Linked DNA regions of Homo sapiens. The protein of the gene in region 2 interacts with the protein of the main gene of each other region in a pairwise test. Each region holds a gene or a part of one and is shown on either strand. Other genes may lie near its edges.

What was found.
Region 1: the proteins of AKAP8L (region 2) and MYPOP interact in binary tests that used the Homo sapiens proteins (3 or more experiments, as listed by UniProt).
Region 3: the proteins of AKAP8L (region 2) and PITX1 interact in binary tests that used the Homo sapiens proteins (3 or more experiments, as listed by UniProt).
Region 4: the proteins of AKAP8L (region 2) and DGCR6 interact in binary tests that used the Homo sapiens proteins (3 or more experiments, as listed by UniProt).

The regions. Positions count from the first base shown.
Region 1 is NC_000019.10:45,891,964-45,899,741, forward strand, and holds part of MYPOP (myb-related transcription factor, partner of profilin), read right to left. Parts: intron 3,670-7,778; coding exon of another isoform or gene 3,659-3,669; exon of another isoform or gene 2,506-3,658; intron 317-2,505; coding exon of another isoform or gene 207-316; intron 1-206. UniProt on the Homo sapiens protein: Transcriptional repressor; DNA-binding protein that specifically recognizes the core sequence 5'-YAAC[GT]G-3'. Dimerization with PFN1 reduces its DNA-binding capacity.
Region 2 is NC_000019.10:15,415,211-15,423,165, reverse strand, and holds the start of AKAP8L (A-kinase anchor protein 8-like), read left to right. Parts: upstream 1-4,177; 5' UTR 4,178-4,242; coding exon 4,243-4,255; intron 4,256-7,955. Other genes in the region: protein Wiz, read left to right, coding at 1-90. UniProt on the Homo sapiens protein: Could play a role in constitutive transport element (CTE)-mediated gene expression by association with DHX9. Increases CTE-dependent nuclear unspliced mRNA export.
Region 3 is NC_000005.10:135,027,102-135,031,874, reverse strand, and holds the end of PITX1 (pituitary homeobox 1), read left to right. Parts: intron 1-366; coding exon 367-599; intron 600-2,553; coding exon 2,554-3,096; 3' UTR 3,097-4,141; downstream 4,142-4,773. UniProt on the Homo sapiens protein: Sequence-specific transcription factor that binds gene promoters and activates their transcription. May play a role in the development of anterior structures, and in particular, the brain and facies and in specifying the identity or structure of hindlimb.
Region 4 is NC_000022.11:18,901,329-18,909,584, forward strand, and holds the start of DGCR6 (protein DGCR6), read left to right. Parts: upstream 1-4,991; 5' UTR 4,992-5,046; coding exon 5,047-5,156; intron 5,157-5,236; coding exon 5,237-5,397; intron 5,398-8,256. UniProt on the Homo sapiens protein: May play a role in neural crest cell migration into the third and fourth pharyngeal pouches.

The DNA.
Region 1 (7,778 bases), about 30 Mb from region 2:
GGCTGGAGTGCAGTGGCGTGATCTCGGCTCACTGCAACCTCTGTCTTCCGGCTTCAAACGATTATCCTGCCTCAGCCTCCTAAGTAGCTGGGATTACAGGCAGGCGCCACCCCGCCTGGCTAAATTTTTGTATTTTTAGTAGAGATGGGGTTTTGCCATGTTGGCCAGGTTGGTCTCAAACTCCTGACCTCAAGCAATCCACCCACCTCGGCCTCCCAAAGTTCTGGGATTACAGGTGTGAGCCACTGCGCTCGGACAAGGGCCAACATTTGACGAGGTTCTGAACTATATGGATACTGCACCACACTGCTGGATCCTGAGGAAGTGAGAGAGAGGTCTGGGAGAGAGCTGGGGTGTCTGGGCACTGGTGGACACTTCCCTGAGACTCTCTCCAACCAGGACAGCAGGATTTTCCAGTTCAGCCCCCAGCCTGGTAGGTTTCCTCAGTCTGTACTCACCTGGGGTCTCATTCATGCTCATGGGCTTGAACAGTTTGCATACAGGGGCTCCCAGCTTCCTGGGCTCAGCCTGAACCTCTCGCCTGGGCTCCAGACTCCTGTCTCCAGCTGTGTACTCTCAATTGTCGAAAAACGCCCCAAACTCACTTGCTCGGAGCTGGGCTTCTGATCCTCCCCCACCCTGCTCCTTCCTCAGCCACCCCCATCTCAGCTGATGCAGCTCCATCCTCCCAGCTGCTCAGGTTAAACACCTTCACTGTTTTGTTTACTAAGACACCATCCACATACAGAAGCTATCGTCTCTGCCTTCAAATTAAATACATACAACTTCTTTCTTCCTGGTCCCCCACCCTGGCCCAACCACCAGTATCTCCCACCAGGACCACTGCAGTCATCGCCTCCCTGAGGGCTCTCTGCTTCCACCCCTGTCCCTGACAGTATCTTTTTCCACCAGCAGCCTGAGGGGTCCAACCAAAATACAAGTCAGTTAGGCTACGGGAAACAAGCTAGTCACAAAGAACCACAGATCACAGGGGCCATTTATATGAAATGTCCAAAATAGGCAAATTTGGCCGCATGTGGTGGCTCATGCCTGTAATCCCAGCACTTTGGGAGGCCGAGGCGGGTGGATCACCTGAGGTCAGGACTTCAAGACCAGCCTGGTCAACATGGTGAAACCCCATCTCTACTAAAAATACAAAAAATTAGCCGGGCATGGTGGCATATGCCTGTAATCCCAGCTACTGGGGAGGCTGAGACAGGAGAATCGCTTGAACCCGGGAGGCGGAGGTTGCAGTGAGCCATGATCGTGCCATTGCACTCCAGCCTGGGCAACAGAGCGAGACTCTGTCTCAAAAATAAAAATAGGCCGGGTGTGGTGGCTCACGCCTGTAATCCCAGCACTTTGGGATCTGAGGTGGGCAAATCACCTGATGTTGGGAGTTTGAGACCAGCCTGACCAACATGGAGAAATCCTGTCTCTACGAAAAATACAAAGTTAGCTGGGCATGGTGGTGCATGCCTGTAATCCCAGCTACTCAGGAGGCTGAGGCAGGAGAATCGCTTGAACCCGGGAGGCAGAAGTTGCAGTGAGCTGAGATTGCATCATTGCACTCCAGCCTGGGCAACAAGAGCGAAACTCCGTCTCAAAAAAAAAAAAAAAAAAAAGGCAAATCTATAGAAACAGAAAGTAGATGAGTGGCTGCCGGGGGCTGGGGGAAGACAGGGAAGATGGGAGATTGGGGATGGCTAAGAGGTGCAGGGTTTCTTTCTGGAGTGATGAAAATGTTCTAAAATTGATCGTGGTGATGGTTGCATAACTCTGAATATACTAAAAGCCATTGAATTGTACGCTGTATTTTATTTTACTTTTTTTTTTTTTTTTTGAGATGGGAGTCTCACTCTGTCGCCCAGGCTGGAGTGCAGTGGCGCGATCTCAGCTCACTGCAAGCTCCGCCTCCTGGGTTCACGCCATTCTCCTGCCTCAGCCTCCTGAGTAGCTGGGACTACAGGCGCCCGCCACCACGCCCGGCTAATTTTTTGTATTTTTAGTAGAGACGGGGTTTCACTGTGTTAGCCAGGATGGTCTCGATCTCCTGACCTCGTGATCTGCCCACCTCAGCCTCCCAAAGTGCTGGGATTACAGGCATGAGCCACCGCGCCTGATCCTGTACACTTTATTTTTAATTTTTATTTATTTTTTATTTTTTGAGACGGAGTCTCGCTCTGTCGCCCAGGCTGGAGTGCAGTGGTGTGATCTCGGCTCACTGCAAGCTCTGTCTCCTGGGTTCACACCATTCTCCTGCCTCAGCCTCCCGAGCAGCTGGGACTACAGGTGCCCTCCACCACGCCCGGCTAATTTTTTTGTATTTTTAGTAGAGACGGGGTTTCACCATGTTAGCCAGGATGGTCTCAATCTCCTGACCTTGTGATCCACCTGCCTTGGCCTCCCAAAGTGCTAGGATTATAGGCGTGAGCCACCGTGCCTGGCCTTAATTTTCATCTTTTTTTGAGACACAGTCTTGCTCTCTCGCTCAGGCTGGAGTGCAAAGGTGAGATCTCGGCTCACTGCATCCTTAATCTCCCCAGCTTAAGCGATCCTCCCATCTCAGCCTCCTGAGCTTCTGGGACCACAGAGGTGCGACCCCACACCAGGATAATTTTATTTTTTTGTAGAGATGAGGTCTCACTATGTTCCTCAGGCTGGTTTCAAACTCCTGGTCTCAAGCAAATCGTACACTTTGAGGTGATTGTATAGTGTGGAAATTATATCGCCATATATATATACATTTTTTTCTTTTTTCTTTTTTTTTTTTGAGATGGAGTCTCATTCAGCTGCCCAGGCTGGAGCTCAGTGGTGCGATCTCGGCTCACTGCAACCTCTGCCTCCAGGGTTCAAGAAATTCTCCACCCTCAGCCTCCTGAGTAGCTGGGACTATAGGTGCACACCACCATGCCCAGCTAATTTTTGTATTTTTAGTAGAGACGGGGTTTCACCATGTTGGCCAGATGGTCTCGATCTCTTGACCTCGTGATCCACCCACCTCAGCCTCCCAAAGTGCTGGGATTACAGGTGTAAGCACTGCGCCCGGCCTTATATTGCAATATAATTGTTTAAAAAAACACAAGTCAGATATTGTTTCTATGCTCAAACCGTCCTGTGGCTCTCACCTCACTCAGGGTAAAAGCAAAGTCCTTGAGGCCTCTAGGGCCCTGCACGATCTTCCCCCATTGCCTTCCTGACCTCAGCTCCCATCCCTCCCTCTTGGGTTACCTGGCTGTAGCCACGGTGGCCTCCTTGCTGATCCTCAAACACATCAGGCCTACTTCTTTTCTTTTTTTTGAGACGGACTCTCATTCTGTCGCCCAGGCTGGAGTGCAGTGGTGCAATCTCGGCTCACTACAACCTCTGCCTCCTGGGCTCAAGCGATTCTCTCACCTCAGCCTCCTGAGTAGCTATAGCTGGGACTACAGGTGTGCACCACCACGCTTGGCTAATTTTTGTTTTGTTTTTGTAGAGACAGGGTTTTGCCATGTTGCTCAGGCTGGCCCCATCTCCTTCTTTTTTTCTCCCCTAACCCTACCTGATTCCTCTCCCAGCACTTATCTCCACCTGGCACGGTATGGCTCTGTGTCTGCTGTCTGTCTCCTCCTCCTGATGTCAGCTCCATCAGGCAGGGCTTTGTATTGCTCCCTTCTGTTTACCCGGCGCCTAGAACAATGTCCAGCACAACATTTTTTCTTTAACGAGAAAAGAACTGGGGCTTCCAGAGACTCAGCGCTGATTGGGTCCCAGGCCCCAGAGTGCCCAGCACCCACAGGAGAAAGTCCAGCCTCTTCCCACGGCTATGGGGCCTCAGCACTTGCCCCCAACTCCGCCTGTCTTCCCACATGTCGTTCCCTGGGCCAGGCTCACACTGCCTCTTGCATCAGCTTGGATGTTTTTTTGGATGTTCCTTCCTCGGGGAAGCTGGCCTCCTGCTCCTTGGCCAAATCAGATCACCCTGCTCTTCTCTCAAAAACAGCCAGCCAAAGAAAGAGAGAAGATAGAGAAAAAAAAAATAACAAAAACAAAAAACCAACCATCCAGGCCGGGTGCGGTGGCTCAGCCGGTAATCCCAGCACTTTGAGAGGCCCAGGCAGGCGGATCACCTGAGGTCAGGAGTTTGAGACCAGCCTGGCCAACATGGTGAAATCCTGTCTCTACTCAAAATACAAAAATTAGCCGGGTGTGGTGGTGCACGCCTGTGATCCCAGCTACTTGGGAGGCTGAGGCACAAGAATCGCTTGAACCCTGGAGGCCGAGGTTGCAGTGACCCAAGATCACACCACTGCACTCCAGCTTGGGCGACAGCAAGAACCTGTCTCAAAAACAAACAAGCAAGCAAACAAATCAGCCACCTCCTACCCTGACTGCTGGGAGTCCAGCCTCCCTGGGCCAGCCACCAGCAGGAGGTAGGGAGGCTGGGAGACAGATGAGTAGAGCGGACAGTGACAGGACACCTGCTCCCGCCAGGCCCTGGGCTAAGCTCCCCTCTTAAGTGATTCCACCTAGTCTTCCCAGCCATTCTCTGGGGTAGGTGCTACCATGATCATCGCCCCATTTTATAGATGAGGTGATTTGAGGCTCAGAGAGAGGTGTCATAGAGTGATATGCAGAAAAGGGATTTGAACCCAGGTTGACTCCAGAGTCCATTCTTTTTTTTTTTTTTTTTTGAGACGGAGTCTCGCTCTGTCGCCCAGGCCGGACTGCGGACTGCAGTGGCGCAATCTCGGCTCACTGCAAGCTCCGCTTCCCGGGTTCACGCCATTCTCCTGCCTCAGCCTCCCGAGTAGCTGGGACTACAGGCGCCCGCCACTGCGCCCGGCTAATTTTTTGTATTTTTAGTAGAGACGGGGTTTCACCTTGTTAGCCAGGATGGTCTCGATCTCCTGACCTCATGATCCACCCGCCTCGGCCTCCCAAAGTGCTGGGATTACAGGCGTGAGCCACCGCGCCCGGCCTCTTTTGTTTTATAGAGATGGGAGCCTCGCTATATTGCCCAGGCTGGTCTCAAACTCCTGGCCTCAAATGATCCTCCCGCCTTGGCCTTCTAAAGTGCTGGGATTACCGGTGTGAGCCACTGCTCCTGGCCAGAGTCCATGGCCTTTTTTTTTTTTTGAGATAGAGGCTCACTCCATCACCCAGGCTGGAGTGCAATGGCGTAATCTCAGTTTCCTGCAATTTCTACCTCCCAGTGCAAGCAATTCTCCTGCCTCAGCCTCCCGAGGAGCTGGAATTATAGGCATATGCCACCATGCCTGGCTAATTTTTGTATTTTTAGTAGAGACAAGGTTTCACCACATTGGCCAGGCTGGTCTCAAACTCCTGGCCTCAAGGGATCCGTGTACCTCGGCCTCCCAGAGTGCTGGGATTACAGGTGTGAGCCACCACACCAGGCCAGAGTCCATGCTCCTAACCATTCCTTGGGCAAGGGCTGTGGGCCTGGGGTGTGAGTGACAAATCTTCCTTATAAGGAACGTGGGAATTGCAGAAACGTGGCTTTTCCAGTCTACTGAGTAAAAAGGAACAGAAAGTAGCCCAGCCTTCATGCCCACAAGGCTCACAGGAGTCACAGCAGTGCCCCTGCAAGAGTTTGTTTTTGGTTGTTTTGAGGAAGGGTCTCACTGTGTTGCCCAGGTTGGAGTGTAGTGGTGCGATCATGGCTCACTGCAACCTCCGCCTCCCAGGTTCAAGGGATCCTCATGCCTCAACCTCATGTGTAGCTGGGACCAAGGCGCCGGCCACCATGCCTGGCTAATTTTTGGATTATTTTGTAGAGATGGGGTCTCACTTTGTTGCCCAGGCTGGTCTTGCCCTCCTGGGATCAAGCAATCCTCCCACCTCAGCCTCCCAAAGTGCTGGGATTACAGGCATGCCTCTGTGCCTGGCTTCCACTGTTTAAAAGTTAAAATCATATTTATTTGCAAACTTTGGATCTCAGTTTCCCTACTTGTTTTCTTTTCTTTTTTTTTTTTTTTAAGACGGAGTCTCGCTCTGTCACCCAGGCTGGAGTGCAGTGGCACAATCTCGACTCACTGCAACCTCCACCTCCCAGGTTCAAGTGATTCTCCAGCCTCAGCCTCCTGAGTACCTGGGACTACAGGCGTGTGCCACCACGTCCAGCTAATTTTTGTATTTTTTAGTAGAGACGGGGTTTCGCCATGTTGGCCAGACTGGTCTTGAACTCCTAACCTCAGGTGATCCGCCCGCCTTGGCCTCCCAAAGTGCTGGGATTACAGGCATGAGCCACCGCAGCTGGCCCTCAGTTTCCCTACTTGTAAATGAGTGTGTGAGCTGGTACTACACAGAGTGCTGGGATTTCAGGCGTGAGCCACCATGCCAGGCCTGTGTATGGTTCTTTTTTTTGTTTTTTTTTGAGACTGAGTTTTGCTCTTGTTGCCCAGGCTGAAGTGCAATGGCGCGATCATGGCTCACTGCAACCTCTGCCTCCCGGGTTCAAGCGATTCTCCTGCCTCAGCCTTCCTGAGTAGCTGGGATTACAGGCATGCGCCACCACGCGTGGCTAATTTTGTATTTTTAGTAGAGACGGGGTTTCTCCATGTTGGTCAGGCTGGTCTCGAACTCCCGACCTCAGGTAAGCCACCTGCCTCAGCCTCCCAAAGAACTAGTATTACAGGCGTGAGCCACCGTGCCTGGCCAGGCCTGTGTAAGATTCTAATCGAGGATGCTCTACGCGTGTTCCTGCCTCAGAGCTTTTGCACGTGCTGTTTCCTCTAGTCTAGCAGGAGTGCCCTTCTCCCAGATGTCTGTCAGGCCTACTCTATTCCCATCTCTACTTGAATTTCACCTTCTCAGAGAAGCCCTCCCTGATTACCCTGTCTGTATAGCCCCCTTCCATGACTCACCATCCTCTGAATATGACTTATTTATCCTCTTAGTTCTCACCACCTCCTGGTATACAGTCTGTTTTGGGACTTCTTTGTGGTCTGTTTCCTCCAACTACATAGAATGTCAGCTCCAGGTCGGGTGTGGTGGCTCACGCCTGTAATCCCAGCACTTTGGGTGGCCAAGGCGGGCAGATCACCTGAGGTCGGGAGTTCGAGACCAGCCTGACCAACATGGAGAAACCCCATCTCTACTAAAAATACAAAATTAGCCAGGCATGGTGGCGCATGCCTGTAATCTCGGCTACTCGGGAGGATGAGGCAGGAGAATTGCTTGAACCTGGGAGGCGGAGGTTGCGGTGAGCCGAGATTGCGCCATTTCACTCTAGCCTGGGCAATAAGAGCAAAACTCAGTCTCAAACAAACAAACAAACAAGCAAACAAAAAAAGAATGTCGGTTCCATAAGGGAAGGGGATTTTGTCTTTTTCTCTACATTATTCCCTGCACCTACCACAGCGTCTGCCTTGGATGAGGTTCTCAATATATATTTGCTAAACGAGTGAATGAAGTGGTAACAAGTTTCTGAAAAAATAAGTTGGCCATCTCTGCTCTGGTCCTATGGGGCCATCTCACAGATGGAAACACTGAGGTTTGATTCAAGGTTTGAGAACAAGGGTCCCATGTGATTGTGTCACCTTCCTGCTTAGGAGATTTTCATGCCTCCTGAATGCCCTCAAGAGCAAGTCCAGGCCGGGCGTGGTGGCTCAGGCCTGTAATCCCAGCACTTTGGGAGGCCGAGGTGGGTGGATCACCTGAGGTCGGGAGTTCCAGACCAGCCTGGTCAACATGGTGAAATCCCATCTCTACTAAAAATACAAAAATTACCTGGGCATGGTGGCAGGCACCTGTAATCCCAGCTACTCAGGAGGCTG
Region 2 (7,955 bases):
ATCCTGGAGATGAACTTCTCCAAAGCGGACCCCCCACCTGAGGAGTCCCAGGCCCCGCAGGCACAGACAGCGGCGGCAGAGGCTCCCTAACACAAAAGCATTCCAGATCCCCTCTCGTGCCACCTCTGTCTCCTCTTCTTCCTCCTCTGTGTCCTTGTCCCTCTTCCTCTTTCTTTCCGTTTCCAAAGGAGCAAGCCAAAACCTCAAACCGGCGCCCCTTGGGGGCCGGGCACACTACAGCCAGGGCGCCGGGAGCCAGCTAGCTGCCCTTCCCCCAGCCCGAGGACTCTGGGGCCACAGGGTGTCTTCCTTCAGCCCATGCCCACCTGGTCCAGCAGGGGCAGCAGCCAGGTCTCTGATGGCAGCCGGTCTGGTCACAGGGGAGGACAGCACTCCCCCGTCTAGCAGCCAGGCAGGGCGATGTCTGCCATCCGTGGCCATTTGCAAAGACCCCAAAGACCCCTGTTCTGGTTCCCTCTCTCCCCCATGAATATCCTCTCACACACATGTACATGCGAACACACACAACACGCACCTCGTGAGACCCGGGACCTGCCCCGGACCCCCAGTTCCTGGGTTGAACGACCACATCATGCCACGGTGCTTGCTCAGGGGAAGCCACGCTCCCTCTGTGGGGCCTGCTGGGGCCTGGGAGCCCCCCACTGAGCCCACAATGCCACGGAAATCCTTGTTGGCTGCCCCCGAGAGGGGCCTTCCCAGCTGGGAAGAGCTCAGAGCTGACAGCTGCCTCCTGCCATGTCAAGGCCCCCCAAAGAGCCTCAGGGGCTCTGGGGCCCTGGAGGGTGGGGTTGGGGGGTGGGACTCTCCTCCCCCACTCCTGCTCCCTCTCCCTTTTCACTGTTGCTTTCTATGTATAGCTCCCTAGACCTTTCACTTTTTTAAAAACGCGTTTTGTGTAGAGAATAAGGAACGTGGATCTTTTTATTTTGCAATCCTGGGCCAGCTAGAAGCCAGGAGCTGATTGACCTTTTAACTTTTTTCAGTGGCCACATTTTGGTTATCGATGTACCTAGAAGTATGTAAATTAGATTAAATTTCTCTTCTGGAAACACCCTGGGGCAGGCGGCCAGCGTGTGTTTTTCTGTCAAGTGGACAGGCTGGCATTGGCTGGCAGCCGGGGCTGGGATCGGGGCCTCCTCTGTCCAGAGCGCCATGGAGGCCCTGGGTTTTCCAGTTGGCCGCCAAGCCGACCAGACGCAGCTGGGGATGAGCCCAAGTTCCCAGCTGTTGGCTCTTTAGGCCATGGCTGGGAGGGGGTCTCTGGCTGGCTGGCAAAGCGGCTCCAGTGAGCAGATGAACCAGGGTTCTGGGCAGCCTGTCTGGGAAGGGAGCCAGGATCAAGAAGCAGTTGAGGCTAGAGGAGCTTATCAAAGGCAGGAGCTACCAGCGAGGGTGTCAGGGACCCGTTGGGAGCATTTGGGTGGGGGCCAGTGGGGTTGTAGAGAGCTGGAACTCACCTGCTTTTAATACATGTGACTTCTAGTGAGACACATGCACCCCTGACCCAAGGAACATGCGGGGAAAAGAGGAGCCACTGGCTCCTTTGCGATGTTATTTATTTTCTCGCTCTGCAAATGTTTATTGAACATTTCTGAGATTTTAAGAGATTTTGTTGGCTGCTCCTTCTTGTTTATTGCATGTGGTTTTTCAGCTCATCGTTTTTACTAAACGGTCAAGTGCTGGAGAGTGGGAACGACCTCATGGCGTGTGGACAGAAGGGGCCACCTCTACCCCCAGCCCTGCTTTCTGGGCCCTCCCACCATACCCCTTCCTGGGAAGGAGGGATTAACAGGCTGCAATAACGCCCACAAGGGTGGTCTTGGCCCACACGTCTGCTCCTGTGGGGTCAGGACGCACATCTCGCCTGGTGGCAGAAGGCCGCAACCACTTCTCTCCATCCTGTGCTGTGGGTGGGTGGATGTATCCAGGACTTAGGAAGCAGGGAGAGCATCTTGTGAGCTGACTCAAAGGTGTTTCTTCCTCTTTCAACTTTTCATAAGTCAGTTTTTATTTTTTTATTTTATTTTTTGAGACAGGGTCTCATTTTGTTGCCCAAGCTGGAGTGCAGTGTAGGGACCTCGGCTCGCTGCAGTCTCTGCCTCCTGGGTTCAAGTGATTCTCCTGCCTCAGCCATCCAGGTAGCTGGGATCACAGGCATGCACCACCACCCCTGGCTTATATCTGTAATTTTTGTAGAGACGGGGGTTTCACCATGTTGCCCGGGCTGGTCTTGAACTCCTGAGCTCAAGTGATCAGCCTCCCAAAGTGCTGGGATTACAGGCGTGAGCCACTATGCCCGGCCCGTAAGTCAGTTTTTGAAATATAAAAGTGGTATAGGCTAGATGTGACAAAAAACAGTCAAATGATACAAGAGCTTATAAAGTCATATGGCAAGTTCCTCCCCACCAATCATGCAGTGAAGTGAGGGTCATGTGTGTCCTTGGAAGAGTCACCTCCAGTTCTTGCAGGGGGATGTTTTCCTAAAACTTTCTGAGCATTGCTCTTCTCTGCTCAAGCCACTTCAATACACCTCAGGCAGCAAAGTCTCAGCTTTTGAGCCGTGGTCTCTGAGGGTGTTGGATGTGAACGAAATCAAATCGGTACAATGATGACTGTGGCAAGTGCGATGAAGGAACGAACCTGCAGGGCGCAGAAGACGTGTCCTGGGGCCCTGCCTTGGTTTGGAAGACAGGCAGGCATCCCTGAGGCTGATGGGGAGATGAACCCCGAAGCCAGAGTGCTTATCCGTCAGATCTCTGCTTCATGTTTGGAGTTTGCTCACTTAACACATCAGAAGTGGCTTTGTTCCGTATGGCAGCAAGTTCTGCAGAAGCCTCATTTGGGTGGGGGGAGTTTTATTAAAACAGTTTATCATGGAGAATTCCAACTATACAAAAGTAGAGCAAACAGTAAAATGGACTCTCATCTATCCATCACCAACCCATGACCAATGTCTTCAGCTGTCAGAGATTTATCTTATAGCTCCTTGCTTCCTCCTCCTCTCTCTACCTGTCTGAATTGTGTGAAGCACATCCTGGCCATAAGATCAGTTAACTTCTTAGTATTTCAGTATGTTTCTCTCAACGTTGTAAATGCCACTATTACACCTAAAGAAATCAACAATATCAAAAAGAAACAGCATACCTTAAAAAAAGTTTTAAAACACACGAAGCGTAGAAGTCGTAATTGCGCAGCTTAATGAGTTTTCACAAACACACGTGTTAAGTACTCTTCGGTGCAGCTCTGTCATCTCTAGAAATTATGAGTTGTCCCTGGCAGGGTTTCCATATGCCCAGGAAACAGACTGAGGACATGACTGGTGCCCGGCTGCACTATTGCAGGATCTCTCGAGCCCAGAGTGAATCAGGAGGGTTTTAGAAGCAAAGCTCCCATTTTAACACGTAACTGTCAAGGACCTTGAGCAAATCATGAGTTCCAAGCTTCAGTTTTAAGTGAGGATTAAAAGCTTTTTGCAGGTTTGAAGGAGCATTCGAATGACACACAATACAAACGGAATTATTACACATATAAGCATATGCCATATAAATATATTATCGTTTTGTTACGATTAATCACATTTATTCAGTGCACTGGCACCAGAATGATTTCTTTACACACACTTTGTCACGTAATGTTGAAACGTGTGTCCAGCATCTTGTTTGGTGCTGTTTTAATTTTCTCTTCTCAACATGGCTTTGCTATGCTTGTTTTGGAGCCGAAGGCCAGAGAATTTGAGAGACTTAGCTAGGTCCCCTACCCAGCACCTCGGTGGCGGAGTTGGCATCCCAGCCCTGCCCTGAGCCGTAGACCCGACTCCCTCTGGCGGGTCTCCAGGGTACGGGCGCTCCTCCAGCCCGACCATGCTTGGGCCTTGGGCCTTTCCGTAGTGCACAGCTCCGCCCCCTCAAATTCTATAGGACTCCGCCTCTCTGCCGGCTTCTGTAGGCCAATCACTGAGGCCTTAGAATAACAGAAGGCGGGGACAAGGCGGGGCTCTCACGAGATTGCCAGCAGCTTCCAGCCACTGATATGAGGAGGCATAGAGATAGACAGCGGTTCCTTCCAATAGACGTGAAGCCGAGGCCGGTATGAGCCAATGCGGTCGGGAGGCGGGGCTCGGGTGTGTGTGGAGGGGACCCTGTGGTTAGCAGCAGCTATCGCAGCGTCGGATGTTCAGAGCAGCAGAAGCCGGCGTCGTCGGATGTTGTGTTGCCCGCCACCATGAGCTACACAGGTGGGCCTGGCAGGGTGGGGTCGGGCTCTGCGTGGGGGATGGGACAGGGACGTGCGGATGCCGCACCAGGCTTGCCCGCACCTCCCCTGGGGCCCCGTCACTGCCTTCCCTGCGGTCACAAAATGGCGCCGCTGGCCCGTCGCCTCAGGGTCGCTGCCCTCACGCCTCGTTGCCTCAGCTCTCTGTGTCTGCAGCCGGCGTCCCGGCTCCCGGCCGCCTGATGTCTTGGCTTCTGTCGCCTGTGTCCGTGGGTCCGGGCCTCAGCGCACGAGGTCTCCGCCCCCACCACCTCCGTCCCTGGCCTGCGCTCCTGGACCTCGACGCCTTAGGTTTCCCTTTCTCAGGCCTTGGTCCTTGCGAGCAGGCAGCAGGCTCGGCTGCCGTCGCCATTGTCGCGTCCTCCCCCGCGCAGTTTCTCTGCAAAAACGCCGCAGCTCTACACCCCCATCCCGATCCCACCCACCACCCCCTTTTGTCTATTTCAGAACTGGGAAAGGCGCCAGGCCCTAGGGGGATAAGTAAATATTGGAAGGGTTTGGGCTGAGCGGGGAGCCTTGGGCCCCTAGGGGCTGAACTGCAAGGAATGACAAGGTTCCATGTTAATTCCCTCTGCGTCTGTCAAATGAACCGTGTCCGGTACAGACTGGGTATTGGGAATACAGACAAGAATTCCTCAAGCAGCTTAGAGGCGAGGATCTTAATAGGCAAATAAGCGAGTGTAGGATATATTTTAGGGTGGTCAGTACCGTGCGGGGGTCGCTCCACTACGTGGAGTGGTTGGAGCCTTCTGTAAAGAGGTGACATTTGAGCAGAGACCTAAATGGAGGGAGCGAATAAAGATATCTGGCCCAGGGAGCTTTTGCTGTAAAAGGCTTACGGGCAGGAACTGCCTGGCTTGTTAGAAGATCAGCCAGGGAGGCCAGTGGGAGGCCAATGGGATTTGAAAGGGAGAGTGGGTGACAGATCCGAGAGCCCCTCTCCGCCCCCCGCAATATGCTTGGGCGACTGTAAATCATCACTGGGTGAATTGCCAAGGCCTCCTGGGTTTGCCTTGGCAGTGACTGATGAGGCTTCTCGGCCAGGAGACTTACACTAGGCCTCCCTGTTTGGTGAGGGTATTATAGGCTTGAGCGTGTGTGGTTGCCAGGTAACCTGCATTCTACTTGGAATTTTGAGAACTGAGAATGCAACGTGAGTCTGTGGGGCTCCTTTGTAGACCACTTTATGTTGGCATAGGCAAGAAGGTAGTGCCAGTCCCCTCTACCCTGGCTGCCAGGTCAGGAGCTTTCCAAGAACCCCAGTTTTTCTAGCAACCATCCCCCAGCCCAGTGGGTTCTCATCCAGGGGTGATTCTGCCCCAGATGACATCTGGCAATGTCTGGAGACATTTTTGGTTGTCACATATGGGAGTGGGAGTGCTGCTGGTATCTAGTGGATGGAGGTTTGGGATGCTGCCCTGCTACGGTATACACAATGACACCTACCGCAAAGAAGTATCTGGCGTCAAACATCAGTAGTGCCCAAGTTGGGCAGCTCTGCCAGAGCCTTTCTGTAGCTTTCCTAGTTCAGGAGGAAAGACTATGGGGTTGTTACTGACATCCCTGGGATTGGAATATAATTCTCACCAAGTCTTACCAAGAACTGGAAGACAGTTTCATGGTTTTTAAAAACAGGACTCTTGAAGAAACCAGAAGATGAATGGTTGGGTGCTGTGGGGTAGCTGAGTAATGGAGCTCTTTTTTTTAATAGATGAGGAAACTGAGATACAAGGTCACTAATGACCAAACCTGAATTCCAGCTCTAGGTCTTGTAGGCTGTAGTTCTGGGTTTGGGTGGGCACTGAGATAGCCAAGCTAAAAAAGTAATGATTAGTTTTTCCTTTATCTTGATAAACTGAAAACCACAGTAATTTACAATGTGAGTCTTCCCCTTATTTAAGAAGTAGGGCACTAAAGTCAAAGGCATTTTAATTCACATTTCAGACAACTAATAGCTTTAAGGGTAAGTCCTAGAGGCCTCGAAGCAAATGTTAGCATTATTAAACATAAAAGGTGACTGATAAATCTTTTTATTAACTCGCCCTGCTTTTGAACCCTGTTACCTTATTTATACGTGGGAAAGGAAGCTGCATCTCTAGCACTGAGAGGGGAAGAGGAGAGCAGTGGTAAACAGCACAGAAATATCCAGAATCAGGCCCTCAAACAAAGGTCTGAAATGCTACTGTACTTGTCATAGAAACATTTATTGTCTCACACAGTTTCTTTATGTTTGGAATGGATAGGTGATTTCACTGGGTGGTTCTAGCTTGGAATATCATGAGGTTACATTTAGGATCTCTATGTGGACTAGAGTCATCTGAAAGCCTGACTGAGGCTGGAGGTCCCACCTCCAAGGTGACTTAAACTCCCATGCCTGGCAGGCTGATGCTGGCCAATAATTCTTGGCCCCATGGATCTCTCCCTAGGGCTGGCTGCTGGAGTATCCTCACAACATGGTGGCTGGTTTTCTCCAGACTGAATGATCCCAGAAAGAGCAAGGCGAAAATCCCAGAAGTCACACTCAGTCATTTTCATAAATCTTATTGGTTGCACTGGCTAGCTCTATTAGTTGGGAGGGATCTACATAACGTTAAGAGGCAGGAATGGAGACCATCTTTGAGGATGGTTGTCACCCTACTCTTGGCTCAGATAATAAAGATTGAAGGCAACCTAACCTAATTCCAGTTATCTTTTAATTTTTGGTACTCTGTGTTACTCCTTCAAATAAGACTCTTTTTTTTTTTTAGATCAGGCACGGTGGCTCACACTTGTAATCACAACACTTTGGGAGGCCGAGGCAGGAAGATTGCTTGAGGCCAGGAGTTTGAGATGAGCCTGGGCAACATAGCAAGACCCTTTCTCTATAAAAATTAAAAATAAAAAAGTTAGCTCTGCGAGGTTGAGGCTGCAGTGAGCCATGATTGTGCCACTGTGCTCCAGCCTGGATGACAGCGAGACTCTGGGATTTTTTTTTTGTTTTTTTTTTTGAGACGGAGTCTTGCTCTGTCACCCAGGCTGGAGTGCAGTGGCGCCATCTCGGCCCACTGCAAGCTCCGCCTCCCAGGTTCATGCCATTCTCCTGCCTCCGCCTCCCAAGTAGCTGGGACTACAGGTGCCCGCCACCACACCCGGCTAATTTTTTGTATTTTTAGTAGAGACGGGGTTTCACCTTGTTAGCCAGGATGGTCTTGATCTCCTGACCTTGTGATCCGCCCTCCCTGGCCTCCCAAGGTGCTGGGATTACGGGCATGAGCCACTGCGCCCGGCTGACTGGGAGGTTTGCTGGAGCCCAGGAGTTCAACATTGCTGAGCTATGATCATGCCATTGCACTCCAGCCTGGGCAACAGAGCAAGATCCTGTCTCAAGAAAATATATACTCTTTTTTAAAAAGGAGAAAGGAAAAGTATAAAACTGAGAAGCATTTGTTTTGTTTTGTTGAGACAGGGTCTCACTATGTTGCCCAGGTTGGAGTGCAGTGGCACAAAATCATAGCTCACTGCAGCCTCGCCCTCCTGTGCTCAAGTAATCCTCCCACCTCACCTCAGCCTCCCAAGTAGCTGTGACTACATGTGCATGCCACCATGCCTGGCTAATTTTTTATTTCTGAGATGAGGTCTCACTATGTTGCCACGCAGGTCTTGAACTCCTGGGCTCAAGTGAT
Region 3 (4,773 bases), on a different chromosome or scaffold from region 2:
CCTCAGATTTAGACCCCCTAAGAGTTCGCAAAACAAACAAACAAAAAGCATACATTTGCTGGGAACATCAGCAGCAGGGTCAGAATCTGAGCCGAGCTAAGGGTGCAGGCCCTGCCCAGCCAGGAACGCAGGCCCGCGGCTCCAGCTCCGATTCTTGGGCTCTTCTCCGCGGCACACCAGACTAGAGGTGCCTACTGACGACCAGCACCCGGCGGGCGCTTTCCAGTGGGGACAGTTCCCAGGAACCCTAGAGGGAGGGAGGGAGGGAAGACCGCCAGCGCTGGTGGCGAGCGGTTCGGTGGAGCCGGGACGGGGTGCAACGGGGCGTAAGCCCAGGTGACCCGCTCCCCGTCCTGCCTACTGCAGAGAAGGAGCGCGGCGGGGAACCCAAGGGGCCCGAGGACAGTGGTGCGGGAGGCACGGGCTGCGGCGGCGCAGACGACCCAGCCAAGAAGAAGAAGCAGCGGCGGCAACGTACGCACTTCACAAGCCAGCAGTTGCAAGAGCTAGAGGCCACGTTCCAGAGGAACCGCTACCCCGACATGAGCATGAGGGAGGAGATCGCCGTGTGGACCAACCTCACCGAGCCGCGCGTGCGGGTGAGCAAGGGGTGCGCGCCTAAGGGCACCCGCGCAGAGGGCTCCCGGGCCGCCTCTGCTGCAGCCCTCCAAAGCTTAGACCCACAAGCAGAACTTCACTCTCCCACCATTCAGACCTGCTCCCTCCCTCCACCGGAGATCCCCACCTTAGGCCCTGGCCCACTAGCGTCTGCCAGGCCTCCAGGCGCCTCGGACCTTCAACCCCTTTGACCCTCATCCTACCTGATCCTCGGACTAAGGCAACCCCAGCCCAAAGACCTGTGCCCCCAGGGGACTCCCCCATGCCCTATGGGGCCCAGGACCCACTCAGATGTTAGCAGGATACCCTGGGCCAGAGACTGGGCAGTGGATTCCCTGCCGCTGGGGACCTCGGGAGCTGTTGGCCTTATCCCGAAAACGAAAGGGAAAGGCAGGTCCTGTCTGGCTGCCTCGGAGAAGCCTGAAAGGTGCCTGGGTTTGGGGCTCTCAAAACTTCCTGGAGCAGTGGTCCCATCTCATAAGCAGATTCTCTAAAAGCTCAAGATATTCTCCACCCTCCCCAGCCATCAGTAGGACCCTTTGCCTTCTGCCCTTTCCGGAAGGTCTCCCGTCAGGTGAGGTGGGGGGTGGCTCCGGGAGCCAAATGTCCTTCCCAGTCCCTTTTAGGATATGCCATCTCAGACCCAAGACCAGCCTGCATTCTCCCTCTTCTCACCCGTTTGGTTTCCAGTAAAAGCAAGGCTTTCCTGCCAGGGTAGCAAGAGAATCATTTCTTCCCTGGGGGCGTAAATATTTAATCAGATATTGGGAGCACCTCCCAAGTCGACCAAAATCCCAGCTGGCCCACAGACTCCTTACCATAACCCCAGCCCTCACCCCTCCCTAGGCAGGCTGGCCAGCCCAGTGGGACTTGGAATGAAGACACAGCACTCAGTAATCCTGAACTCACTAATCCTGCCCAGGTTTATGGTGGTAGGGGTGGGTGGGGGTGGAATCAGGTAGTGTCAGTGCTGGGGACTAGGGAAAGCTGAGAAGCAGGGATCTGGCAAACTAGCTCAGGAAACTCCACTCAGAACTGGAGGAAAATCCGAGTGGGCAGAGGGCATGCGGTAGGCAGATAGGTAAGGATGGGGGAGGACTAGGAGGTTCTTACCAAATTTGGGGGGAGAAAAGGAAGGGCAGGAAGATTAGAAGAATCTAGTAAGAATAGAAAAAATTTAAATATTTGTGGAGAAACATATTTGGCATATATTTAGGCGGCAGGAAAGAAATTAAATAGGAAGCAAAAAGATCAGGTATTTGAGAAAAAGAATCAACTGTTTAAGGGGAACAGTGCAGGTCAGATATTTGGAAAGGATTCAAAAGCCTAATATTTGAGGACGATTCAAAAGGATCAAAAATGGGGGATAAACAAGAAAACAGACTGAGGGAGAAGAAAGAGGTTCAGACAGTGGGGTGGACTGAACGAAAATAAACATTTGGAGCCAAAAAGAAAACATCAAATATTGCCGATAAAGATGATAACAAACTATTTGAGCGATGAAATAGATCGAAGAATTGGGGGAGTCGGAAAGTCCTATGTCTCAGGGAGGAAAAATACCTTTTGTATTTGAGGGAGAATAAAAAGACTGAAATATTTAGTAGATAGAGCGAACCTGTTTGGGGGAGAAGGCAGAGGTGAACTGGTTGAGAGAGGAAGAAAGAAAACGAATATCTGTTAAACGAGAATCCGTATTCGGAGAAGAAAACGGATATAATTTCGGGAGAGGATAAAGATCGGAAAAAGAAATTAGTATTTTCTGGGGACAGGAAAGGAACCATTGTGGAGGGAATGCAGGAGCGGAAATATCGGTCGAAGGAGAGAAACGACGTTCGGAGGGCAGCGGGCCGACGGAAGGCTCCAGGCGGTGGGGAAGGGGGTGGGGTCCCTCCCGGCCCGCAGCGGCCCTGACCCTTCTCCCGTCCCCTCCCCCAGGTCTGGTTCAAGAACCGGCGAGCCAAGTGGCGTAAGCGCGAGCGTAACCAGCAGCTGGACCTGTGCAAGGGTGGCTACGTGCCGCAGTTCAGCGGCCTAGTGCAGCCCTACGAGGACGTGTACGCCGCCGGCTACTCCTACAACAACTGGGCCGCCAAGAGCCTGGCGCCAGCGCCGCTCTCCACCAAGAGCTTCACCTTCTTCAACTCCATGAGCCCGCTGTCGTCGCAGTCCATGTTCTCAGCACCCAGCTCCATCTCCTCCATGACCATGCCGTCCAGCATGGGCCCAGGCGCCGTGCCTGGCATGCCCAACTCGGGCCTCAACAACATCAACAACCTCACCGGCTCCTCGCTCAACTCGGCCATGTCGCCGGGCGCTTGCCCGTACGGCACTCCCGCCTCGCCCTACAGCGTCTACCGGGACACGTGCAACTCGAGCCTAGCCAGCCTGCGGCTCAAGTCCAAACAGCACTCGTCGTTTGGCTACGGCGGCCTGCAGGGCCCGGCCTCGGGCCTCAACGCGTGCCAGTACAACAGCTGACCGCCCCGCCGCACCACGCGGGCCGGCGGCCGGAGCGGGGAAGGGCGCGGGCGCGGGCGCGGAGGACGCACGCGGGGCCCCGGCTCGCAAGCCCCAGCTCACCGCGCCGCGGACCTCACACCTGCGCAGCCCCCTCCTCCCACTTCCCACTCCGGGTTGGTTTTGTGTTTGCTTTTCCGGACCCCACTCTGCCCTCCAAAAAGACAAAAAAAAAAAAAAAAAAAAAAAAGCAAAAAGACGTCGGAGAAAAGTGCCGCGAAAAAATGGATGAGTTGCAATTTCTCTCGGGATGGCGCGGGTGGTGTGTGTGTTCCCACGGGCCCCGGAGGCCCACTCCGCGGAGGGCACGCGGCGCGGTAGGCGAGCGCCGAGGCCCAGCGGCCGGGGGAGGACGACCTCGTATCCCGCGTCCCCGCCGCGCTGGATCCGGACTGAGTGGCCGGGCCTGCGGACTGGATGTGCGGGGCCTGGACTTGCCTAGGATTTCCCGACCCCGTACAAACCAAGTTGCCCTCTCCGAGCTAGGCCCGGCCGAGAGCGCCTTAGCTCGAGTCGGATCCGTGTTGGGGCGGGCGTTGGGTTTGGGGGGACGGTGCCCCCAGCCCAGGATCGGGCACTCAGTGGAGCCGCACACGGCCCCGGCGCGCCTGGTAGAGCCTCGCTGGCCCCGCGCCCCGGAGCCCTATATTAAGGCCACGGAGCGACAGCGGGCAGTGCGGGCCTGGCGGGAGGTGGGGGAGGTCCATCTCAGAACACCCCAGCCTTGAGCTTAGCTGCAGGCCCAGGCCCTCTGCTCTGCTCCCGGGCTAGGAGGTGGCCCTCTGTCTGGGCGAACAGCCCCCTCCTCACCGCCCGCCGTGCAAGAGTCGAGCCGGCAGAGCAAGGGGCGCGGCCCCAGGGCCCTGCGCCCACTTTGCACACCCGCTCTCCGGCCCGCGCCCCTGTTTACAGCGTCCCTGTGTATGTTGGACTGACTGTAATAAATCTGTCTATATCGACTTGTCCATGTACGTCTATTAAAACCATAGTCCGAGCGTGCTAAGCACTGCTGAGCCCCGACTGCTTCATTGGGCTGAGGAGGGAGGCGGATAGAAAGGGAACTGTGGGTAGAAAGGGAACCGGGCCCCTTGGGTAGGAGCAGAGCGCCGAGGCAGCCCCCGCCGAGGTCTGCCTACCCCGCTTCCCCACCACCATTCTTGACCTGCTCAGCCTGGCTCCCATGAGGGCACCGTCCTGCGTTGCGAGCCTGTCCGGTGCGCACCCGCTAAGCTGTGCCTCTCGGCGTTGTCCGCGGGACGCCTTAGCGAGAACCCCCTCCCTCCGCGGCTGCGGGACTCTACGGGTTTCTTCCCAGGCCGGGTCTGCGGTGACCCTCGAGGCCCCAGGGTGCTATGGGGCCCTTGCCTGCCAGGAGCGTTCGGGCAGGGGCTGCTGAGAGCCTCTTTATGCCTGGGGTTGCCTTTTCTTCTGTGGGCCCAGCAACAGCCCCTCTTCTCTCCTCGGAGCCAGGGCCAGGCTATTCCAGGAGGACTGAGGGGGCTGGATCTATCAGAGTATAGCGAGGGCCTCCCGCTGCCTTTCTCCCTAATGCCCGCAACGTGCCGAGAGCCCACCGAGGGGCGTGCGGCTGTGCAGGAGAAAGTGTCCGTCACACAGGACTCACTTCTCACTTCCAAT
Region 4 (8,256 bases), on a different chromosome or scaffold from region 2:
GTGGTGGCGGGTGCCTGTAATCCCAGCTACTTGGGAGGCTGAGGCAGGAGAATCACTTGAGCCCAGGAGGTCAAGGCCGCAATGAGCAGTCATTGTACCACTGCACTCCAGCCTGGGTGACAGAGCAGGATGCTCTTTCAAAAATAAACATAAAAGTAAATCTAATGAGCTCTAGGATTTCTAATTTGAAGATAGAAGCGATAAACAAAATAAGAAACCAAAATACATTCTGTTTTGATTAAAGCAGAGGTCAGCCATAACTCTGAACCTAAAAAGGAGGTCACCTGAAGCAGCTGTGAGTAAGCAGGGTAAGATAGGAAGCAGAGAACCGATGCTCATTGCCAGATCTTAGGAAAAAAATAATAAATTAGGATGACATACTTTTGCAAAATTAAAGAAATCCCCTGAGGTGCTAATACAAAATTTCATTTGTGATAGGACTAATAAAGAAATTCAGCTAGTAGTGGGATCTGTCGTGGACTGAGTTTGATTCCAAGAACAGAAGAGGCAGGACCAGTGAGAAATAGCACAGACATATTTGCAAAAGCAGCCCTCCCACGTTAGGAAGAAGGGATACTTTTGCACAGTGAACAGCACTACAACTGCTCATGTCTTTCATGTACTATCACACATGGAATGACTGAGATAATCCTGTGTTCCACACATAGTCCTCCTCCCATCCCCCACCACTTAGGCAAGAGCTGTGCCCAGGAAATGTCACCCGTAACTGGTCTGCACAGACCCTGTCTTCTAAAAGGGTGCTGTGCCTCCACCAGACCCCATGAGCAATACATTTGTCAAGCACACGCGAGACATGCCAAGGCCAAGGCCTGACTGATTTGACAGTAAAGACACAATGAGCCCCTCTCATTCAGAGCTTATTACTCACAGAGTGAAAATAAGAGAAGTCTGAGGTGGCAGCTCCCTGCCATCCTGGTGCCACACACTAAAAAGGACAGCACCGAAACAAAAGGGGTCAGAGGGCATGCATTGCAGGACACCCAATGCAGAGGAGCCCCTTGAGACTGCAGCTGGGTGGTGTCCTCATCTGCAGCTCTGTTGTGAGGGCCAGGGGCAGGGCAGTGAGGAACCCTCACCAGGGCCAGTGAGGCAGGCAGTGAGGAACAGTCTTGGGAGACAGAGGAAGTGACCAGTGGCCTGGGTGCAGCCTGATGTTCTGGGAGGAGCAGGCTTAGGTCAGGTGCTGTGTGCACCTCTGTGTGGCCTATGGGGATCCTGCAATGGCTCAGGGTCTCACGGCAGAGCTGTTTCTCTGCCCACACAATGGACTCACAACCTGACACACGAAAATTCACAGAGAAACACAGAAAGGCACACGTGACACTCAAAGACAGACCCACACAAAAGCCATGCAGCAAAGCCTTTTGCCACACATGCACATGCACACACACACACACAGGCTCCCATCCTTTCAAACCACAGACTTGGTGTTTGCCCAGACACACCTGTGTCAGAGAAAGGGGATCTGCAGCTCCCCAACATACACCAGTCACTCCACACTAACCCAAGGTGTCACCAGCCAGCCTGGAGGACTTGGGAAGCTAAGTGGAGGTGGACAGTGGCCACAGAGCAAAGGCCTTCAGTGGATACCACCTGATGTAAAGAGCCATGGGGTCCACCATGTGCACGCACACAAGGGGCACACATGTCTGCGCACCAGCTCCCCCATTCCTACACACATATCACCCATCCCTAGGGCTCTGGGGGATGAGACCCCTCCCTGAAGACCCACAGGAGTCCCCATGCCTGAGTGACCCACTGCTCACGTCCATGCAAAAGAAAAGAACTTTTTATCTGAGGAATGCGAGACCCCTTTAATTATCTGGCCCAGAGAGTCACTGGACTGAAACAGCAGTCACATGTCACTCCCACTTGAGCTAACGACCTCTTGAAGCCAATTGCTCTGTGGGTTCCAGACTGACACCAAGTAGACATAAAAAGCCAGACGCTGGACACCATAACTCTTCCCCTGTAGTCCAACACCTTATAGCCAGTCACTAAGGTTCTCTCTGGAAAGCAGTCAGAATTCCTGCTGACTTCATATCAGCCCACTCCTTGTCCCCTTCAGTCTTTAAAAACTTGCTTGTAATAAGGCTGAATGAAGTACTCCCAGGGCAACTTGGTGTGTCCTGGGCAGCTCTCTCAGCCTTGGTCCAGACAAACTCTCTATATGAACTGTGGTTCAGTTTGTTTCTTTAGGTCGACATCCACATTAGGGGAGCAGTGCTGCTGGGCTGGGGAAGCTGGTTCAGGTCAGATGTTGCACCAAGGGTTGGAGAAGGGGCCTTCCTGCATCAGCACCCGGACAAGGCAGAGGAGCAGGTGTCCAAACCCAGGCCTGGTCTGCTGCTGCTGTGGCTCACAGCCCCCACCCCACCTGGCAGACCTGGCAGACCCCGGAGCTGGCGACAGTGTTGCCCAGCTGGCCACAGACATATCATCACGTGGGGCTGCCCTATATGCTCCCAGTCTCCACACAGACACCCTTCATGGACTGGGGGACTGAGGGCAGGGACACTGGTGAAACAGGCAGGCATCTTCACCCAGCTACTCATCCCACTCACCACCTCCGGGGGAGGTGACAGTGACCAAGCCCAGCCCCAGCTGGCTCCTGGTCACTCACTACAGACTCAGCTCCCACAATCTCGAATCCCACCTCCAGCTCCTGCCATTCCGAGGGACCTGGAGGCCAGGGTGCCCGGCGCATGACCAGCTCTGGGTTGTGGACCGCCCTCCACGGCAGTGGCCTGAGCGCTTGTTGTCATTATTCACTTTATTCACTCCTGGTTTCTGTCTGGAAGGGATCACAAAGACATGGCTTGCAGGGGAGCCAATCCTGCCAGGGACTGAGGAAACAGATCCTGGAGAAAACCAGAGACTTTGCTGGCACTTCAGGGGGACCCCAGTTGGCTCAATGCCCCCCTCTCCCCCATAGCCAACTGCTAACCAATGTTCTCTCTGGAAACCAGTCATAATTCCTAACCTGGTCAAAGCAGGGTCATCTCACACAGCCCAGCCACCCATTCTTTAGCACCGCAGGCAGCTAAAGAATGCCTGGTGAAATGCAAGTCTGATCGTGTCTGCGTCCCCAAGCCCTTCCGTGCCCCCTGCTGCTCTTTGGACAAGCCCCCAGCAGCCTCTGTAATGCACAGCACCCGCCCTTGTCTCCTGTGCTGGCTTCCGCAGCCTGGCCACACTGGTCCTCTCGCCCATCCACCTGACCTGACTCTGGCAGGGCCTTTGCAGGAGCCATTCCTCCACCCGAACCCCTCCTATTAAAACGTGTTCCTAGCCGGTTCAGCCCCAGCCTGTAGGGACCAGCCCCACATGGTCGGTGGGTCTCTCCCCGTGTGCCGCAACGAGAGAGTGTAGAAATAAAGACACAAGACAAAGAGATAAAAGACAGCTGGGCCCGGGGGACCACTACCACCAAAGCGCGGAGACCGGTAGTGGCCCCGAATGTCTGGCTGCGCTGTTATTTATTGGATACAAAGCAAAAGGGGCAGGGTAAAGAGTGTGAGTCATCTCCAATGATAGGCAAGGTCACGTGGGTCACGTGTCCACTGGACAGGGGGCCCTTCCCTGCCTGGCAGCCGAGGCAGAGAGGGAGAGGAGACAGAGAGAAAGATAGCTTATGCCATTATTTCTGCATATCAGAGACTTTTAGTACTTTCACTAATTGACTACTGCTAGCTAGAAGGCAGAGCCAGGTGTACAGGATGACTAGGCATAATAAAGGCAGACTAGGAGCGGGACCACTGAAGCACAGCATCACAGGGAGATGGTTAGGCCTCCGGATAACTGCAGGCAAGCCTGACTCATGTCAGGCCCTCCACAAGAGGTGGAGGAGCGGAGTCTTCTCTAAACTCCCCCGGGGAAAAGGAGCCTCCCTTTCCCGGTCTGCTAAGTAGCAGGTGTTGTTCCTTGACACTTTTCACTACCGCTAGACCACGGCCCACCTGGCAACGGGCATCTTCCCAGACGCTGGCGTCACCGCTAGACCAAGGAGCCCTTCTGGTGGCCCTGTCTGGGCATAACAGAAGGCTCGCACTCTTGTCTTCTGGTCACCCCTCACTGTGTCCCCTTAGCTCCTATCTCTGTATGGCCTGGTTTTTCCTAGGTTATGATTATAGAGTGAGGATTATTATAATACTGGAATAAAGAGTAATTGCTACCAACTAATGATTATTGATATTCATATATAATCATATCTAAGATCTATATCTGGTATAACTATTCTTGTTTTATATTTTATTATACTGGAACAGCTCGTGTCCTCGGTCTCTTGCCTCAGCGCCTGGGTGGCTTGCCGCCCACACCAGCCACCAGAAGCTCCCCAGCCCCGGCCCAGCAGCTGGTCTGGGGAGCGGGGAGAGGGCAGTCTGGGCTCGCGGTTCCGGCTGGGGGCTGGGCACCCCGGGGCGACCACGGCAGGCCCAGATGGGGACTCCGGTTCCAACTCTCCTGGCCCAGAGGCTCTAGGGTGGTCTTGTCTGTCTCACTCCGGGGGCAGAGAGGACGCAGACAGACCCCAACACCACTGCTCGGCCGCGATGGTGCCTTAGACCCAGGTCCTGTGGGCTCTGGCCCGAGACCCCTCCCTCTGGGAAGGCCGGTGACCGGGACAGTCCACCTCGCAGGCGCGCCGGCGCGGAGCCCGGACCTCAGCCCGCAATGACTCAGCAAGGGCCGGTGGGATTCTACATGGTCCTGCGATATCCAGGCGACGGAGTCTCGCCTCTAAAGTGGCCCGGGGAGCAGGAAGGTATGAGCCTCAGCTGAGCGAAACCCTCCTTGCAGCCACCACGGAGGGACGGGGCGCGTCTCCTTCTGAATGACGCAAGGGGCGGGGCGCGTGGTGGGGCGGGGAAGGCGCGAGGCGCGCCGCGATCGGGGACTGTCCTAAGACGGGCGGGGCGCGCTGCGCTAGGGACTGTCATAAAAGGGGCGGGACGCGCCGCGGTCGGGATGACGTGAGCTGGGGGCGCTCGTCGCTGCAGCCGGCGGCTAGCGGGCGTCCGCGCCATGGAGCGCTACGCGGGCGCCTTGGAGGAGGTGGCGGACGGTGCCCGGCAGCAGGAGCGACACTACCAGCTGCTGTCGGCGTTACAGAGCCTGGTGAAGGAGTTGCCCAGGTACGCGGGCGGGGCGGGCGGCGGCCTGCCGAGGCCGCATCGTGTCCCGCCGGGGCTCACCGCGCTCCTCTACCCCGCAGCTCATTCCAGCAGCGCTTGTCCTACACCACGCTGAGCGACCTGGCCCTGGCGCTTCTCGACGGCACCGTGTTCGAAATCGTGCAGGGGCTACTGGAGATCCAGCACCTCACCGAAAAGAGCCTGTACAACCAGCGCCTGCGCCTACAGAACGAGCATCGAGGTGCGCGGGGGCAGCGGGAGGAGGTGCCGCCTCCTCGGGGTCGGCGCCTCCCGGCAGCTCTTGGTATCTGTGCAGCTCGGCTCCTTCCTTGGGAGTGTTCGGAAGAGGTCCCTAAGATTAACAAAATCAAGGGCGCAGAGACTGAGACAGCGCCTTTTTGGTGACCAATGTGTCCAACGAGTTTTGTTTTCAGTTGCGCAGCACCCACCTTCTTAGCAGAAACTCCCTGTTCGGGCTTCCCTGTGCCCCACCCCCTTCCAGGCCTGATGGCCCTAGGCCTCCGTGCTTGGTTGGCCGGCAGGCTGACTCTGGTGGTAGATCTGACTGCGTTGCCCTCCGGTAATTGGAGTTCTGTTGACAGGTGAGCAGCGCCCTTGGGTAGTTGGAGGTCTGTTGACAGCTGTGCGCGCCCTTCAGGGTCAGTTCCCTCTCAGGCCTGCAGGGCCTCATTCTAGTTGCACATCAAATTCCTAAGCACTGTCTCCTGTGGCGCCCTCCCAAACCAGAAGAGCTTCCCACTTGAGCCGCATGCTTCCTGGGCTTCGGAGCCCTTTCCTGCAAATTATATAGGGCAGGTCCCCCTGCACCATCAGATTTCCACCTTTGCTGTTTTATTTTTCCCAAACTTCTTATTTTAAAAGTTCAAACATTTGGAAAAACTGAAAAGACAGTGTAGTGCATACGCTTGTGCTCTCCACCGAAAGTTCAGTAGTTAACATTTTGCTCTAGTTCTTGACATCCCAAAATACATACATGTGACAGCATAGAATTCACCAAGAGTCTTCAGCATTCCTGGAGACCAGGATTTTCAACCCAGCCATGCTGACATTTGTGGCTGGGTAAGTCTTTATGGTGAGATGCTGTCTTGCGCATTGCAGGATGGCAGGGGTACCCTCCCTAGTCGTGAAAACCAAGAATGCCTCCAGACAACCTGGGTGGTGGGGTCAACCTTGGCCTTGGATTGGGAGCAAGTGCTCTAGAACAAGAGCGGTCTCCTACACAGCTGCAGAGGGTAGCCCCCTGAGAAATTAACTGTTCCAGGTGTCTCCTGACTTTCAGTGCATGGCCACATCATGGTACCTAACTTGTGGCAAATTGTTGCTTTATAAGTAAGGATCCAGTCCAAGTTCATGTACTACAATTGGTTACTTTGGTCTCTTTGCTTCTGGAACAGTCCCCAACATTTATTGTGGCATTGACTTTTTATAGAGTCTAATTCTATAATTAGAATGCCCTGCTCTGGATCTATCAGAGGAAATGCTTCCTCGTGCATTTAACCTGCTTCTCCACTCTCTGGGTTTACTGTACACTGGACTCCTGGTAGGAGCCTGATTAGAGGCAGGTTTAATGTGGCAAAAATTCCTCCTAGCGGGGCAAGGCCCCCTTCCCCAGAAGGCAGGCAGTGTCCATCTGCTCCAGGATTGGTGTGTTTCTATCAAGAATGGATGTTGGATTTTGGCAGTTTCCTTTTTGGCAGCTCTTGAGATGATCACGTGGTGAATCATTTTCTATTACTACAGTGAATTACAGTCACTTGAATTCCATCCTACTGGGTCGTGCTGTAGTATCCTTTTTATGTATGCTGGATTTGATTTGCTAAAATCTTGTTAAGAATTTTTTTGTCTATGTTCATGATAAACTGTGGTCTATAGTTTTCATGTAATACCTGGTTTGGGTATCAGGGTTTTTGCCAGCCTTATAGGATGAGTTTCGAAGTGTTCTCTCCTCTTCAGTTTTCCAGAAGAGTTTGTGTAGAATTGGCATTACTTCTTCCCCTAAATGTCTGGGTGACTGTCTTTTTAAAAATTTTATTGAGCTGTAAGATGCATGCAGTTTACTAATCCCAAGTGCATGGCTCATTATTCCTTAATGCTCAGACTGTGCCATGTGTGGCCAGTTGGGGGCGCTCCAGGCACCTTTAGATGCCGCCCCATCATTCTGTGAGCACTTTCTTGCTTTCTGGTTCAGGTATGTGTTCAGGCTCATCTTTTCTTGTTTTCTCCGTGTCTCAGTCCTGGAATCGGCCATTTTTCCACAGAGTTGTAGTTCTTTCTAGCAGGATGGGGAGTTTCAGTAACTGCCTGGGCCCAATGCTGTTTGTGCTTCAGAAGGTTTGGGCCAGGTCCTGGTTCCACCAGCAGCAGGCATGCCTGCGTTGACTTTCTGCTTCTCCTGCTGATTTGGCAGGGGTGACTGGCTGCTCCTGCCTCCTTTGTGTTCCCGGTCGTGTCTAAGGCCAGGCCCCTTCTGCCCAGGCAGCCGGCGTGGCTCTCTTCTTGCCTTTTGGTTGCATATCTAGTGGAATCTCGTAGTGGACCTGGCACTTGTAGCAATGTTTGATCAGTAGAGTGAAGATGATGACATTTCCCTGCTTCCCTGTGTTATGGAGCTGTCTTGAGGGGGGCTTTTGGTAAATACCATCGTCGAGGTGTGTACAGAATGCCAAGAAACAGGAGATTGGGGAAGGCTGTAGGCACAGCTGGAGCCAGGCTACCTGCAGGGGAGCCTCAGGGGCCGTGGAGTTCCCTGGAGACTTGCCACCAGAGAAGAGCTGCAACATCAGGGCTCTTCCCAGGAACAGAGTGTTGGATTTCACGTTTTGTTGTGGCCAGGGACCCCTCCTTCCTGGGGAACTGTAGCCATTTGGCACTTAATGCACTGGCGCCAGCTGCGGGGTGCTCCATGTTCCATTTTGCCATGATGGTTTATGTCCCATGATCGCTTCCTCTGTACACTCCCTTCAGACTAGAGTTTGCACATCTGTGTTTGTGCACAGTTTAGCAGGGACCGTGGAGCTTTGCTTGGTGGCCGAGGGTGAGCCCCTCAAAGCCACACAGACTCCCTGGCCCAGAGCCTCAC